2 separate regions of the Homo sapiens genome follow, and region 1 is linked to region 2. Evidence: fine-mapped expression QTL. A gene starts in region 2. The other region holds a variant in brackets. All regions are shown on one strand. Distances are between the middles of the regions.

Region 1 (4,393 bases), 250 kb after region 2:
TTTGCTCTATGTCTTAGTACTATATACTTTAGATGTTTAGCTACCTGTGAGCTTCCTTTTCCTGTTCTTATCAGAACTGAACAGCGCTTATTGCCTTTGTATTTAAAGTGTTACTGATTCTTTGTTTTGTTTTCCAAAGTCAAGAAAACCTTTTTTCTTTTAACCTATTTATAGGTGACAGAAACTGAGTAAAATAACAAAGTTCAGCTTTCTCTCTCTACCTTCTACCTCCAGAATTCAAAAACTATTCATGAGCATTCTTACTTACAGCAATATGGTGGTTTGCATAAGTTCAATAAGAATACATTTTCTTTTGTAACAGGACACTTTGGGGATATTATTTTAACAAGACCTTTGACTGAAATAACACTTTCCGATAAAGTTCCAGCAAAGCCAATTTAAAAAGAGCCTACACGGCCAGCTGCTATTCCTGCTGCAATTTACACAAATGATCAAGCCAAATAGAATAAGACTAAAACTTATTTTGTACACAAATTGGTCTTATTATTATTTCTCTGTGGTAGAAAGGGGGAACTAAAGAGATGAAAAAAATTACGTTTCAAAAGAAAACACTTGTTCTGCAATTCCAGCCCCGACCACTGTTCTTGAGTTTTATTTTTTGCCTATAATTCAAACTGAGTCTTGAATTATCTCTTGGCTACACATCTCTAAAGAGGATCCAGGTTGTAATTTTCTTCATGATCGTTTTAGTTGGCTCCCTAATGGGGTTGATTCCTTTCTTCCTGTTAGGGGCGCATAAATTCTTGTTGAGAGGCAAAGCCAGCTGGACTTCCTGGGTGGCGTGGGGACTTGCAGAAATTTTCTGTCTTACAAGAGGATTGTAAAACGCACCAATCAGAGCTCTGTAGCTAGGATTGTAAAACGCACCAGTCAGAGCTCTGTAGCTAGCAAGGGGATCGTAAAACACATCAATCAGCGCTCTGTAAAAATGCACCAATCAGCGCTCTGTAGCTAGCAAGAGGATTGTAAAATGCACCAATCAGCGCTCTGTAAAATACACCAATCTGCACTCTGTAAAATGCACCAATCAGCAGGATCCTAAAAGTAGCCAATCACAGGGAGGATTGAAAAAAGGGCACTCTGATGGGACAAAAATGGAACATGGGAGGGGACAAATAGGGAATAAAAGCTGGCCACCCCAGCCAGCAGCAACAACCTGCTCAGGTCCCCTTCCATGGTGTGGAAGCTTTGTTCTCTTGCTCTTCACAATAAACCTTGCTACTGCTCACCCTTTGGATGTGTGCCATCTTTGAGAGCTGTAACACTCACTGCAAAAGTCCGTGGCTTCATTCTTGAAGTCAGCGAGACCACGAAACCACCAAAGGAACCAACTCCAGACACATTATGCCTGTACGTTATAATTCTACCACTCAAATTATTAATGCCATTTATCTCTCAAATCTCTCTCATTCAAAGTCTCCTGGAGCTGTTGCTGAAGCTATACCATATCAAGCACCCTCTGTCTAGGCCCAGGGACTGCTGAGGAAGAGAAGGGGGCGTGAGATGGTAAGGGCTGGCTTCAAAGGATAAAACTAGTTCAGGCTGGGTGCGGTGGCTCATGCCTGTAATCCCACCACTTTGGGAGGCCAAGGCAGGCGGATCATCCAAGGTCAGGAGTTCGAGACCAGCCTGGCCGACATGGTGAAACCCGTCTCTACTAAAAATACAAAAACTAGCTTCACATGGTGGCACGCGCTTGTAATCCCAGCTACTCTGGAGGCTGACGCAGGAGAATGGCTTGAACCCGGGAGGCAGAGGTTGCAGTGAGCCGAGATCATGCCACTGCACTCCAGCCTGGGTGACAGAGTGAGACTCCATCTCAAAAAAAAAAAAAAAAAAAAAAAAAAAAAAAAAAAAAACTAGCTCAGACCCTCCAAATCAAGGACAGTGCATAGATGCCTGCACTGCTGACAAATCAAGGGACTGTGCCTCCTGGGCCATTAGGTGGTTCCCTCTCCATCCCTCCAACTCTAACCCTCTAAAGAATTTCCTGCTTCCCATAGACTTAATTACCAAGAGGATGTAATGACACCTAGTGACACAGCCTCCAGAATACAGCTGTTCCCAGTTATGGGATTTATACAAATAGAGATACAATTAAAACGGTATTGGCCGCCTTAGGACAAATTACTAAAAAGACCACAAAAAGCACAGCAGCATATCAAAGTCTCTAAATTCCTTAGCTGAAATGGTTTTAACAAAATGCTTACGTTTCGTGTAGCTAATTGCTACAAGTCAGAGACTGAGACCAAAATTATGATAGCTCAACACTTGGAACTTATAGATAAGCCAGTTTTGTCACTTCGCCTTTTGGCTTTTGGTTTTCAGCTCTTATATTACCTCCAATTCCGCCTGGCCCAGAACGTTGAGTTGGCTGTAAGTCTTTTAGCTGTAAGCCCCTTGGCAATCAGGGTTCCACTGAAGGGCTGGAGGGACCAGGGCAGGTAGCCCCACCTCCCCCAGCAACAAGGTGGGCCAAGATAAAGGTTTGGCCGTGGATGCTGCCTATGGCAAATCTCAGCCAAAAGCGGGAAATGGAGACGAAAAATAAAATTCTAAGCCACCCAACTGACTGAAC[C/T]GACGGGCTCCTCACCCCTTGGTCAAGGGGACCCCAGAGAAACCTGAAAAATGGAGTTCTCAGCCCTGAGGGGACAGGAGATCAGATGCGTCCCATGACACCCCTCCCCTGTGTGGTTAGACGCAGCAACTGCCCAGCATGAGTGTTGAGATAGAGAACATCGCCTGGCAGAACCGACTGTGGCCATAAGACGCCACATTATCAACGGGACCTGAGGCCACCCCAGGCAGGGGCGAAGTCACACACGCTGCACTTATTTATGTTCTACCTGCCACGGGAGTTTTCTTTTTCTCTGACACCCAAACGCTGGCCTTGAGACGAACAACGTTAAAGCAGGTGCAGCTCACCCCCTGCCAGACACTGCCTCGCTGACCCCTGCTCCCCCAGCCAGAACCACAGCTGCCATCGGACAACAGCCGCATTTCAGTAACTGTCCCCTGAGCAGGGACCCCCAGCCCCGGACTGGTTCTGGTTTACAGAGGCTGCGCACCGAGTGCTTCCCGTCCCGGCTCCACCTTCTGACGTGCAGGGCCTGATTGTAACGCAGTTAGATGTGCAGTCTCCACCCCAAGGTGAACGTGGGTGGTATATAACATGCCCGTTTATTGTATGCAGTGTAGGACTCTCTCATAACTATTCATAAGATGTTTCTATAACCTGCTGAATATGCATATGTGTCCGGCTCATTCAGCATAAATTCCGTTCCACCCTCCCCTCTTTCAAAGTGCTTACTTTTGGTTTTCAGCTGGAGCTTCGGCTTCCACCTGTAGGTTGTCATCTCCTTCTTAAGAAATAAAACTCTAAATTTATAAAGTGCGATTTTTAAGTCCACAGCTCCTCTCACTTACTAATATGAGTTAAGTTTCCTCCGTGCTTTTGAAGGGCTCGATGGCTCATTTCATTTAGTGCTGAGTCATCTTCCATTGTCTGGATGGACCACGGGCTATTTATCCACTCACTTACGAAAGGACATCTTGGTTCCCTCCACGTTTTGGCCATTATGAATAAAGCTGCTATAAATTCATCCTACGCAAGCTTTTATGGGTACATAAGTCTCCAACTCCTTTGGATAAATACCAAGAGACACAATTTCTAGATCGTATGATAAAAGTATGTTTAGTTTTGTAAGAAACTGCCAAATTTTTTTCCAAAGTACCATTTTCCCACCAGCAATAAATGAATGAAACGTCCACGTCTCCACCAGCGCTTGGTGTTGTCAGTGTTTTGGATTTGGGCCATTCCAGTCGGTATGCAGTAGTGTTATTTAATTTGCATTTCCCTGATGACATACGGTGTTGAGCATCCTTTTTTTTAAGACACAGGGTCTGGCTGTTGCCCAGGCTGGAATGCAGTGGTGCAATCACGGCTCACTGCAGCCTTGAACTCCTTGTTTCACACAATCCTCCTGCCTCAACCTCCCAAGTAGCTGGGACTATAGCTGTGCACCACCACACCCAGATAATTTATTTATTTTATTTTTTTTTTTAGGGATAGGGTGTCTCACCATGTTGCCCAGGCTGCTCTCCAACTCCTGGCCTCTGTGATCCCCCTGCCTCCGCCTGCAAAGTATTTTTTCACATGCTTATTTGCCATCCATATATCTTCTTTGATAAGGTGTCCTTTCAGATCTTTGGCCTGTTTTTTAAACAGATTTTTTTTTATTGCTGAGTTTTAAAAGTACCTTGACTATTTTGAACACTGGTCCTGGTCCTTTATCAGGCACGAGTTCAGTGAAGATTTTCTCTCAGTCTGTGGCTTATCTTTTCTCTGTCTTAACAGTGTTATATCACCTTT
Region 2 (4,393 bases):
AAATACTCCCAAACTGAGGCTTCTGAGTTTGTAAATCAGAAAACAATGCTACTAAAGTTTTATAGAATGATGACAACCCACGGCTTTTAATGGGAATGTATTTGTTCAGCTAAAAAAATGTGAATTGCTAGAGCTTTGTACGCTTATTTTAATTAAAATTACCTTTATTTTGGGATTTGCAAATACAAAAAAAAACTAGAAATTACTCCTGAAAATTATTAAACTTTTAAGAGCAAGCACTCAAAGGGTGTAGCTTGTATAATTTGCAAATTTTAAGCACATTTTATGCCAACTTATTTCAGACAGCCTACAATGATTAACTATTTTAAATCTTCCCTTAATTTCTATTTCATGTGGTAGGACATGTGGGTGGGGTACTTCAGTAGAAAATGACTTCATGAAGTTCATTTGCTGGTGGAAACTCTTGGCATGAGAGACTCAGAACAAAAAAAAAGTCTTTCCTTCAACAAGCATATTTTTTCTTTACAATAATAATGGCAAACATTTATTAGAGCTTACTATAGGCTATGCATTACTCTAAACAATCTACATATGTTGTCTCATTTAATCCTCATGCTGTCCTCCAAGATAGAAAACATTATTCTTGTTTTACAAGTTTCATTATCTATTTTATAGATGAAGACACTGAGGCAAAGAGTTCAGTGGAGCTGGGATTCAAAATGATGGAGTCTCACTCCGGGATCCATGCTCCTACCCACTATGTTTATAATAGCAGTTCCTGAAAACCCTATTAAAACAGATGCCATTAAATTATAAGCCTTTTAACTTTTTTTTTTACCGTCTATTACAGATCACTAATATGATTTCAAGTAATGATGAATCTAAATATAAAGGCACTAAAACAAGGAAAACAAGACAGGAAAGAAAACTCTAATCCATTTTAAAAGACCACATGTGTTTCCCTATTTGTTTTGCTTAAAAGTGTGGACAAATTTGATCCAGAAAGGACATTTAAAAAAATGGCACACTGAGGGCTGAGAGTCAGAAATAAGATTTACTGTAAGGACTTACAGATAATCACAGATTCCTCATGGGAAAGGTAAACATGTAAAGACGAGGAGAAAACAGAATATGAAAGAGTAAACGTCTTTTTTGATTAGGGCCGGATGGTAAGGATTTGGAGGCAGCAAGAGACAGCTTCATAAGGGAAGAAATGGTTCTCTAGATTCTTTAGTCTTCAAAATGAGTTTGAATAGACCCAAGGACAGAGGTGGAATCTAATTGAGAAAAAGGTCAAATTGAGCTTACTGTGAGGGGAAGGATGCAAAATTAGTGTCTGCTGCAAGAAAAATAAGCATGGAAAGAAATTAAGGGAGGAGACAGAGACAGAGCCAGAGCCACAGACCAGGAGTAGGGAAAAAAAGGTAAGCAGCAGACGGGGCAGAGTGGCCTGGAGGAATGAGGGGTCACACCTAGCAGGTGCCCACCGGCGAAGAGGCAAGGGCCGAGCCCGGAGGGCAAACGCCGGCAGGAGTCGTCCCCGAAACACCTTGCCCAGCGAGGCGGACACAAGCTCGGGCCTGCAAGACGGCCCAGGAGGGTGGGGGCGGGAAGGGGTCGCAGAAGGTGGGCAGGGGAAGCGGCTGAGGACACGCGATGCACCTGTGGGCGGTCCCCGTGCCCACCTGACTCGCCCGCAGCTCCCTGAATGAACCCTCCACACCCGCCGGCCGCCCCCAGACCCCACCTGACGCGCCCGCGGCCCATCGTCCCTTCCTGACGCGCCCGCGGACCCAGACCTCAGCAGACGCGCACGCGGCAATCCCGTCCCCATCTGACGCGCCCGCGACAACCCCGTCCCCACCTGACGCGCCCGCGACAACCCCGTCCCCACCTGACGCGCCCGAGACCCCCGGTCCCCACCTGACGCGCCCGCGACCCCATGTCTTCCCCTGACGCGCCCGCCGCCCCCGGTCTTCACCTGACTCGCCCGTGGCCCATCGTCCCCACCTGACGCGCCCGCGATCCCCAATCTTCACCTAAGGCGCCTGCGGCGCCCAGTCTTCACCTGACGCGCCCGCGGCACCCCGTACCTACCTAGCGCGCCTGCAGCCCCCAGTCTTCACCTGACGCGCCCGCGTCCCCCAGTGCCCAACGGGCGCGCCTGCCACCTGGGCCGGCACCTGACGGCGACCAGGCGATTATTGCCGGAAGTGGGCCACCGCCTCTCGGCGCGCCTCAGGGAAGCCCCGCCCCTGGCCATGCTGATTGGCCGGCGCGGATTCGCGTGGCAGTGTTGCTGCCGGGTCCTGACGCCCGCAGCGTGCGCCTGCGTAGTAGGCACTGCCCCGCCGTCCGCGCGCGCCCAGAGTGCCGGGCGTGGAGGTGTGGGGGCGCGGGGGCGCGGGGGCGCGGGGGCGCGGGGGGGCGGGGGCGGGGGGGCGCAGGGACGGGCGCGGTCAGTGCCTGAGATCCCTGCGATCGCTGGGAGATGACGGTGAAGACCTGAGATTTAGGCCTGCGCGGCGGGTGACGACGCCGGTCCGGGTCTTCACTGGAGGACGCTGGCCGGGGCCTTCAGGTGTTCTCGTGGCCTGAGGACGCGCGTCCCTGAGAATGTGCGTGCCCGCGCCGCGCGGGTCCCACAGGAGCCTGGGCAGCCCCGCCGCCGCATTTCCACCCTGCGGCCGTATTTCCACCCGCTGGGCGCCAAGCCCGGGATGACTGCACTCTAGGGCATCACTGCGCGCTCACACTCAGCATTCAGGCACAAGCACGTTCTCTTTATAAACAGTTTCGAATCTTGTCGAGTCTTTCTAGAAGGTTGAAATGCCCTGGAGGAGCAGCGTGAATAGTTTTTTCCAATTAGGAAAAAAGAATGTGGGGCGGCTGGAGGGAGAGAGGCAGGCCGAGAAGGCCAGGTGCGTCCAGGAGCCGCAGCCCCCGTGCCTCAGTTTCCTCCTAGAAACATGGAGGTGGCGGTGCACGCTACAGGATTTCTGTAAGAACAGATGAGTTAACGTGTGCAAAACATTTAAAACAGTGTCTGGTGTGTAGCAAGCAAATATGAGTATTAGTCTTTTCCTTGTTAAAATGTGTGCATCTACATTTGGTGCACATTACAGGAAGTGTATAGTATGGATTCATATTTTGGAAAAGTAATTTTAGAAGTTATTTCTGATGTGCTTATTGTAATAGTGTTTCTTGACCACATGCTTTTAGATAATGTGAAGGCAATGAAGCAGGCAATATTGCTTGCACATCCCCAATTTAAACACCTGTCTGTCCCTCCTTCCCTCTCTCCTTTCTTTTCTTCCTTACCCTCTCTCTTTATTCCTTCCTTCATTCCCTTCAAGGTTGCGGATTATTCCATTATATAAATGTATCAATTTATTAGAATAGTTTCTATGATGTCTATGATGGGCTTTAGATTGTTTGCAATAGTTTGCCATTACAAATAATGCCCAGTAGTGCTGTGGTTTGATTTAACTTGTGAAGGTATATTTCCAAATAAATCGCTATGATTGGATTGTTGTGTAAACCAAAAAGTGTCTGAGGCAGATCACAACTGATATAGAGGTTTATTTTGCCAAAATTGTGGATTTGCCTGGGGAAAAAGAAACACAGGTTACAGTAGGATTTTTGGCCTGTACTTTTTTCCAAATATTTAAGGGAAAAGCGCCGGTAGGAGGGGAAAGAGGGGAGAGTAGGCTATGAGGCAAGTGGTCACATTTTTGTGAGGCTCTGATTAGAGTACAGCAAATCTACATTTCACATGTGAAAAGAAAGGTATGGGGGAGGGTTATACATCTGTCTCATACTCAGTAGATCTACATTTCACATAAGATAAAGTAAGCTTTTGGGAACAAAAAGAAGGCATGTATGTGTGTGTGTGTGTGTGTGTGCGTGTGTGTGTGTGTGTTGCCAATATTAACTTTTCCCTTTGGCATAGTAAGTTTGGAGGCCTGAGATTTTATTTTTCTTTCACTGATGTGTCAAGATTAACTGCATATGGAATACTAGTAGAAATTGCCAAGCCAAGACCCCACCACCACAATAGGGGACATAGTAATATTAAATTTAGCCCAATTGGCCAGCATCCACACAATTCCTAGTGAAAGAATTCCTGGCTGGATGGTAAAGAGGTAAACTAACTGCAGAAACTCACAAAGCAACAAAAGAAGTCCACAGAATAAGAGCAGGAATTCAGAGAGTAACCACAGAGAGATCCACAGAGTAACAGCAGGAATTCACAGAGTAACAGCAGAACCCACAGTGTAACATCAGAGCCCACAGAGTAACAGCAGAGCCCACAAAGTAACGTCAGAACCCACAGAGTAACAGCAGAGCCCACAGAGTAATGTCGGAACCCACAGAGTAACACAAGAGCCCAGAGAGTAACAGCAGGACACACAGAGAAATAGCAGGAACC

Evidence for each region. PIP is the estimated chance that this variant, and not a neighbour inherited with it, causes the effect.
Region 1: its variant is the best candidate, but not a certain one, in a credible set for the expression of LINC03100 in whole blood (INTERVAL, PIP 0.88).

Annotation. Positions count from the first base shown.
Region 1 is chr2:241,832,710-241,837,102 of GRCh38, reverse strand. No RefSeq gene overlaps it. Among named protein-coding and RNA genes, the nearest start is that of PDCD1, 24 kb to the left of the region's middle. RefSeq lists an enhancer at 2,391-2,891. The variant C/T (reference allele first, on the strand shown) is at 2,600.
Region 2 is chr2:242,086,467-242,090,859 of GRCh38, reverse strand. It overlaps LINC03100 (long intergenic non-protein coding RNA 3100), which reads left to right and starts at 2,295. Exons shown (of 1, transcript NR_186294.1): 1 at 2,295-3,509. LINC01881 (long intergenic non-protein coding RNA 1881) reads right to left here and starts at 2,227. Exons shown (of 7, transcript NR_130702.1): 1 at 2,059-2,227.